2 linked regions of the Homo sapiens genome follow. Each later gene encodes a partner of the first gene's protein in a complex. Each region holds a gene or a part of one and is shown on either strand. Other genes may lie near its edges. The genes, in order: RBL1 and LIN9.

Region 1 (3,825 bases):
CTTTGTTCATGTAAGACAGTGTCTTGCTTTGTCACCCGGGCTGGAGTACATGATTGAGGCTAACTGCAGTCTCGACATCCTGGGCTCAAGCAATTCTCCCACCTCAGCCTCCCAAGTACCTGGGGCTACAGGCACATGCCACCACACCCAGCTAATTTTTTAAATTTTTGTAGAGATGGGGTCTTAACTATGTTGCCTGGGAAATCTGGCTTTTTAATAAAGAGTCTTAGTCATGAATAGAATATTTCCTTTCAATCCATTATTTAAATGAATTTTAAAGGTGCCTTTTTTCTCCTCCTTTTTTTTTTTAGTTTAATACAATTTTTTAGTAAAATGAAGAAATGGATGGACATGTCAAATCTACCACAAGAATTTCGTGAACGTATAGAAAGGCTAGAGAGAAATTTTGAGGTGTCTACTGTAATATTCAAAAAATATGAGCCAATTTTTTTAGATATATTTCAAAATCCATATGAAGAACCACCAAAGTTACCACGAAGCCGGAAGCAGAGGTGAGCCCTTAATCCTTATATAATTGACATAAAGATTATGATACAAACTAAGAGAATATACTTTTTTGAAAGTCTGTTTTTTATGAAAAGTATTCCTGCAAAGAACTTAATTATTTTCTTTTTAAATCCATGTACAATTATCCATATTTGGAAATTCAGGATAATACTTTTACTTATTTTTCTTTCTGTTGTTGTTTTTTTTTTTTTTTTTTTTTTTTTGAGGAGTCTCATTCTGTTGCCCAGGCTGGAGTGCAGTGTCCTGATCTCGGCTCACTGCAACCTCTGTCTCCCAGGTTCAAGCAATTCTCCTACCTTAGCCTCCTGAGTAGCTGGGATCACAGGTGTGCACCACCCCGTCTGGCTCATTTTTTGTATTTTTAGTAGAGACCAGGTCTCACCGTGTTGGCCAAGGTGGTCTCGAACTCCTAACCTCAGGTGATCTACCCACCTCGGCCTCCCAGAGTGCTGGGATTACAGGCATGAGCCACCACACCCAGCCCTATGTTCTGATTATTTTATGCAGGTTGGAAAGGCTTACTTAAGTCCATTTCATAAATAATAGATTACTTTTCTTCATGAATGGAATTTCATGTGTAATTTGATCTATTTGATATTTACATTTACTATTTCAGTTTACATGATATTTAGCGAGCTAGTCAGACAAAAAGTAATTTTTTTCCCTTTTTAGGAGGATTCCTTGCAGTGTTAAGGATCTGTTTAATTTCTGTTGGACACTTTTTGTTTATACTAAGGGTAAGATGACACTTTCAGTGGTCTTACATTTCTACTCTGGGAACTTGGTGCTATTTGACATGAGAGGTTTCTGGTTTTTGTGTCTTTTTTTTTTTTTTTTCCCTTATAAAGGTAATTTTCGGATGATTGGGGATGACTTAGTAAACTCTTATCATTTACTTCTATGCTGCTTGGATCTGATTTTTGCCAATGCGATTATGTGCCCAAATAGACAAGACTTGCTAAATCCATCATTTAAAGGTAAGACCTTTTATTTATTTTTGAAAACTGATTATCAGTTTTTGGAAAAAGATTTTTAAAAGTTGACTATTTTTTTTTCCCTCTGCCCTTCCTACACTGTCAAACTAGGTTTACCATCTGATTTTCATACTGCTGACTTTACGGCTTCTGAAGAGCCACCCTGCATCATTGCTGTACTGTGTGAACTGCATGATGGACTTCTCGTAGAAGCAAAAGGAATAAAGGAGCACTACTTTAAGCCATATATTTCAAAACTCTTTGACAGGAAGGTACTGTACTTATAATTAGATGACTGAGATGTTTACAGATCACCAGTAATGTGAAAAGAAAAAAATGTTTTAAGCAAGTTCTCAGCATTATAGAACTTAGGGTCAGGATTCCCAGGCTTTAGCCTCTACTGTGATTCAGAATTTCCTTATGATCTTGTGTGATGTGAGAAACAGAGCTGTTGAAAAATGTGACCAACTATATGTACTGTTGGGTAAATGTACTGTCAGAGGCAACCGTAGGAGGTACTGATAAAGAATTGTAAAGAATAGAACATCAGAGTAGGGCTGACAAATAATTAGGAAAAACAGGAGGTCAGAATAAGCTGACTAATTTACTGCCACAATTTGAATAACTGCTGACTGTTGACTAAAAGTAGGATGATGTATAACAACCACAGTTTTAATTCCATGTAAATCGAGCAGAAAATCCATGATAGTTTTGTAGCCACTTGTAGGCTATCTGTGTGCATTCTGGACATTGTCTCCTTGGTAATTAACTTAGCTATTTCTACATTTATGAATTGGCTTGTTCCTTTGGGTTTCAATTTCTTATTTCCCCAACGTCGAGCCATTAAATGTAGTTAAGCCTCAAGATTTCTCTTTGGTAAAAGGAGGGGTTTGGATTATGGATCCCACTTTTCAAATATTATGAGATTTTTCTTTAAGCATAAATTCTTCCCTTACTGGTTTCTTCTTCTTTTATACAAATTTTTGTATTCAGTCTTGTGTTCCTCAGATATCTATATTATGGCCCATTGTCTGTATGCTAAACATCTCTAGCAAAGTAAACTTTTTTTAAAGGATCCCAGGGACTGGGCGCGGTGGCTCACGCCTGTAATCCCAACACTTTGGGAGGCCAAGGCAGGTGGATTGCTTGAGCCCAAGAGTTCCAGACGAACCTGAGCAACATGGCAAAACCTTGTCTCTACAAACAATACAAAAATTAGTTGGGCATGGTGGTGCACAACTGTAGTCCCAGCTACTTGGCACGCTGAGGCTGCAGTGAGCCATGATTGTACCACTGCACTGCAGCCCTGGTGACAGAACAAAACCCTGTCTCAAAAAAAAAAAAAAGTTAAAAAAAAAAGTTATTTGCATGCTAAATAGTTTATCCTAGTCTGAAAGAAATATTTAATAATTCTGTTTTGTGTGTGTGTTATAACAATATGGAAATTTAGATAAATTTCACGTTTGTGTGTGTATTAATATGCTTAATTATATGGTGTCCCAAAATAATTTTTTGTTCACAGATATTAAAAGGAGAATGCCTCCTGGACCTTTCAAGTTTTACTGATAATAGGTAAATATCTAGTACTAATGGTGCCTGGCTTATCACAAGCTGTCATATTTGTTGATTTGTTGAAATTTGTTAAGCATAACAGTATATCAAAGTAAGACCTCCAAATTCAAGTTCTCTCTGCTTTAGTGGCATTGAATGTTTATTATCACTAAGACTTGTTGGCTTTAAATACATTTATTTTAAGAAATCAAGGCCAGGCACGGTGGCCCACACCTGTAAACCCATCACTTTGGAAGGCCAAGGCAGGCAGATTGCTTGAGCTCAGAAGGTTGGAGACCAGCCTGGGCAACATGGTGAAACCCTGTCTCTACAAAAAATACAAAAATCAGCCAGACGTAGTGGTGTGAGCCTGTGGTCCCAGCTACTTGGGAGGTTGAGGTTGGAGGATCGTTTGAATCTGGGAGGTTGTGGTTGCAGTGAGCCGTGATTGCACCACTGCACTTCAGTCTAGGTGACAGAGTGAGACCCTATTTCCAAAAAAAAAAAAAAAAAGAAAGAGGCCGGGCATGGTGGCTCACGCCTGTAATCCCAACACTTTGGGAGGCCAAGGCGGGCCGATCACTTGAGGTCAGGAGTTTGAGATCAGCCTGGCCAGAGATCAGCCTGGCCAACATGGTGAAACCGCATCTCTACTAAAAATTCAAAAATTATCTGGGTGTGGTGGTGCACACCTGTAATCCCAGCTGCTTGGGAGACTGAGGCAGGAGAATCACTTGAACCCAGGAGGCAGAGGCTGCAGTGAGCTGAGATC
Region 2 (3,825 bases), on another chromosome or scaffold:
TATCTCACAGAGGAAGAGATCCTTAGGGGACCCCAGCCCTATCTGCTAGACCCCTGGTTCGGATCTATACTTAAGTCTTCCATTTGCCAGGAACTAGCATTTCTCTGTTGGACCTTAACGACACAGCACTTTAGTATAACCAAACTGATGAGTCCTGACTAAATAACCTTGGAGAAGAAGCTACATAACATTTTCATTGCAGCTGTTAGGTTAAAGTATAGTCCTCTTGCAAAATTGTTTTTAAAGTATAGTAACATCTTGTACTTATTTGTTCTCCTGTTTTATCTTCAGAGGCATGCAAGGTGGGTGTTAATTACCTTCACTTTTGCATGATGAAACTCAGACATAAGTACAATTGCGTAATTTATTCAAGGCTCTAGATCTGGTTTCCTATTAGGCTGAGACTAGAATTGAGATCTTTTTTTTTTTTTTTTTTTGAGACGGAGTCTTGCTCTGTCGCCCAGGCTGGAGTGCAGTGGTGTGATCTCGGCTCACTGCAACCTCTGCCTAGAATATACATACATACATACATACATACATATATACATAATATATATACACACACATATATATGTATGTCTTTGTAAATATATTTCCTAAAAGAAATATATATATATATATATATATATCTCCTTAGTGCAGAAATACAATATTGCTTGATATCTCTCCGCAATAGGAGAGAAAGAAAATTAGAACTAAATGTAGAACAGAGTACACTGCTCTTAAGTTTTTACATTAAAGGATGAAAGCTTTAAACTCTCCTTTCAAAAAAAGTAAATTGGCCAGGCGCGGTTGCTCACACCTATAATCCCAGCACTTTGGGAGGCTGAGATGGGCGGATCACCTGATGTCAGGAGTTCAAGACCAGCCTGGCCAACATGGTGAAACCCCATCTCTACTAAAAATACAAAAATTAGCTGGGTGGGGTAGCACATGTCTGTAATCCCAGCTACTTGGGAGGCTGAGGCAGGAGAATTGCTTGAACCCAGGAGGTGGAGGCTGCAGTGATCCGAGATCGCGCCATTGCACTCCAGTTTGGTCAACAAGAGTAAAACTCGGTCTCAAAAAAAAAAAAAAGTAAATTGCTTCTCTGTTTCATTAATTTAACTGTTTTTATGAGATCACCCAAATATTTCTCCCTGGCTAAATAAGAGTTGATTTTTAATTGTAGGGTATATTCAGACAGTCTAAATGCAGATAACCAAATGTGGCCATAGAAAACTTTAATATTAATCTTTGATTCTCTGAACTATTTTGACCCCCCCCCTTTTTTTTTATTTCTTTTTTTCTTCTGGAGGTTCATCCTTTTGGCAGCAAAGTAGTGTTTTCATACTCTGTTTCAAGTTCTAGCCTTTGATCTGTATAGACTAATATGCTACTCTATAAATAATTAAATATATAAGTAATAAATTCTATATGAATCATAGAATATGCGTGAATATATATCTCAAGCTGAAATACAATGATTATAAAGCTTAAATGATTGGTAAATTTCTTTAAGTTTTGTGAATTATTCTGTTTTCTCAGAGTAATGAACCTCATGAGACAATGCCAATTGCTGCCTTTGGACAAAAACAGCGGCCTTCTCGATTTTTTATGACCCCACCACGGTTACATTATACTCCTCCTCTCCAGTCACCAATTATAGTAAGTATATTTTAGAAATATCAATAATTTAATTGATTTTTATGAAGGTGAACTATGTTCTTAAGAAATACACATCTATTACAGCAACTTCAAAGTATGCACACTATTTTGAATTGAAAATATTAAATAAAATAAATAGTTGCTTCATCTCCAGAAATAATTTCCTTTTTATTGGATTTTAATATAATATTAATTATAACAGAATTTTCTCTTTTTCTAAAAATAAGATACTTCCTGGCCGGGCGCAGTGGCTCACGCCTGTAATCCCAGCACTTTGGGAGGCTGAGGCAGGCGGATCACGAGGTCAGGAGTTCGAGACCAACCTGATCAACATGGTGAAACGCCGTCTCTGCTAAAAATACAAAAATTAGCTGGGCGTGGTGGCGCGCGCCTGTAATCCCAGCTGCTCGGGAGGCTGAGGCAGGAGAATCGCTTGAACCCAGGAGTCAGAGATTGCAGTGAGCCGAGATCACAAGTGGCAACAGAGCGAGACTCCGTCTAAAAAAAAATAAAAATAAAAAAATAAGATACTTCCTCTGAATAGTCAATGATTAAATAATTCCTTTTTATTCCCATAGGATAATGATCCTTTATTAGGACAGTCGCCGTGGAGAAGTAAAATTTCTGGCTCTGACACTGAAACATTAGGTGGTTTTCCAGTAGAATTTCTTATCCAAGTGGTAAGAATTGTTCTGAATATCTTGGCTGTTTGTTTAAAAACTCAATGCCTTTTATGTTATTAAAGTTGAAAATTTTTCTAGGGCCGTGTAGGTTTATCACCGTGTAGGTTTTAAGAGCTGCTATTTCCAACAAAGCCTGAAAATAAAAGTTATAAAAACCAAAAAAGACTTAAAGATCTTTCTTCTTGAGCTTTGTCTTGTGTCTGAGTTCTTATTATTCTGCTATTTTAAGGGCTCAAACATTCTTGCATATGTTCTGTGAAATTCTGAATGTTTGGCTGTTAATAACTTGGGTAACTATGAAGGCTTTTATTTAGTAACCTCAGCATATTCTGCCATCATCAGTCAGTTCAACAGTTATGATGTCCTGGCTAGCTTATATGGTTAGAAGAAATTTTATTTCTTTTCAGAGACTAGAAACAGGTATTCACCTGCTAAGTACTTAGTGATTAGACACTAAGAAATCTAAGCCTAAACTGAACTAAGTGTAGAAGTATTATATTGGAAAATTTCCTTATAGCTGGACTCTTAAAAATGTAGTGAGTTTGAAAATTAGATTAAATAAATTTTTTAGTTTGAATCATAGTCTAATAATGTTTCATTTCCTTTTTGGAAAATGAAAACTACTTTGGCTTGGGATAGAAATGATCTTTATTTTCATTTGTTTATTTATTTATTCATTTTGAGACTGAGTCTTGCTCTGTTGCCCAGGCTGGAGTGCAGTGGGTCAGTCTGGGCTCACTGCAACCTCTACCTCCTGGATTCAAGCTTTTCTCCTGCTTCAGCCTCCTGAGTAGCTGGGATTACAGGCATGCACCACTATGCCCGGCTAATTTTTTTTGTAATTTTAATAGAGATGGGGTTTCACTGTGCTGGCCAGGCTGGTCTCCAGTTCCTAACTTCAAGTGATCCCCCCACCTTGGCCTCCCAAAGTGCTGGGATTAGAGGTGTGAGCTACTGCACCTGGCTGATATGATCTTTATAAATAAAAATGTTTATAACATAATCCATGAAAATATTCACAGTGTTCTTTTGCAGTTGATGTTATTTTGAGGAAAGGTCTTGTCAGTTGTGTGTCTGTATATAGCATTCTGTGTTCCTCAATCACATTTTTTTATTTAATATTTATTTATTTATTTGTTTATTTATTTTATTTGAGACAGAGTCTCACTCTGTCTCCCAGGCTGGAGTGCAGTGGCACGATCTCAGCTCACTGTAGCCTCTACCTCCCGGGTTCCAGTGGAATCACCTCAGCCTCCCAAGTTGCTGGGATTACAGGCGCACGCCACCACACCCAGCTAATTTTTTGTATTTTTAGTAGAGACGGGGTTTCACCATGTTGGCCAGGCTGGTCTCAAACTCCTGACCTCACATGATCGCCCTCGGCCTCCCAAAGTGCTGGAATTGCAGGCATGAGCGACTGCACCTGGCCTATTTATTTATTTATTTGTTTGTTTGAGACAAAGTCTTGCTCTGTTGTCCAGGCTGGAGTACAGGG

The links.
Region 2: RBL1 (region 1) and LIN9 share a complex: the UniProt entries of both Homo sapiens proteins name them as parts of the DREAM complex.

Annotation. Positions count from the first base shown.
Region 1 is NC_000020.11:37,064,673-37,068,497, reverse strand, and holds part of RBL1 (retinoblastoma-like protein 1), read left to right. Parts: intron 1-311; coding exon 312-512; intron 513-1,200; coding exon 1,201-1,265; intron 1,266-1,376; coding exon 1,377-1,505; intron 1,506-1,613; coding exon 1,614-1,774; intron 1,775-3,024; coding exon 3,025-3,074; intron 3,075-3,825. UniProt on the Homo sapiens protein: Key regulator of entry into cell division. Directly involved in heterochromatin formation by maintaining overall chromatin structure and, in particular, that of constitutive heterochromatin by stabilizing histone methylation.
Region 2 is NC_000001.11:226,264,035-226,267,859, reverse strand, and holds part of LIN9 (protein lin-9 homolog), read left to right. Parts: intron 1-1,527; coding exon 1,528-1,647; intron 1,648-2,225; coding exon 2,226-2,327; intron 2,328-3,825. UniProt on the Homo sapiens protein: Acts as a tumor suppressor. Inhibits DNA synthesis. Its ability to inhibit oncogenic transformation is mediated through its association with RB1. Plays a role in the expression of genes required for the G1/S transition.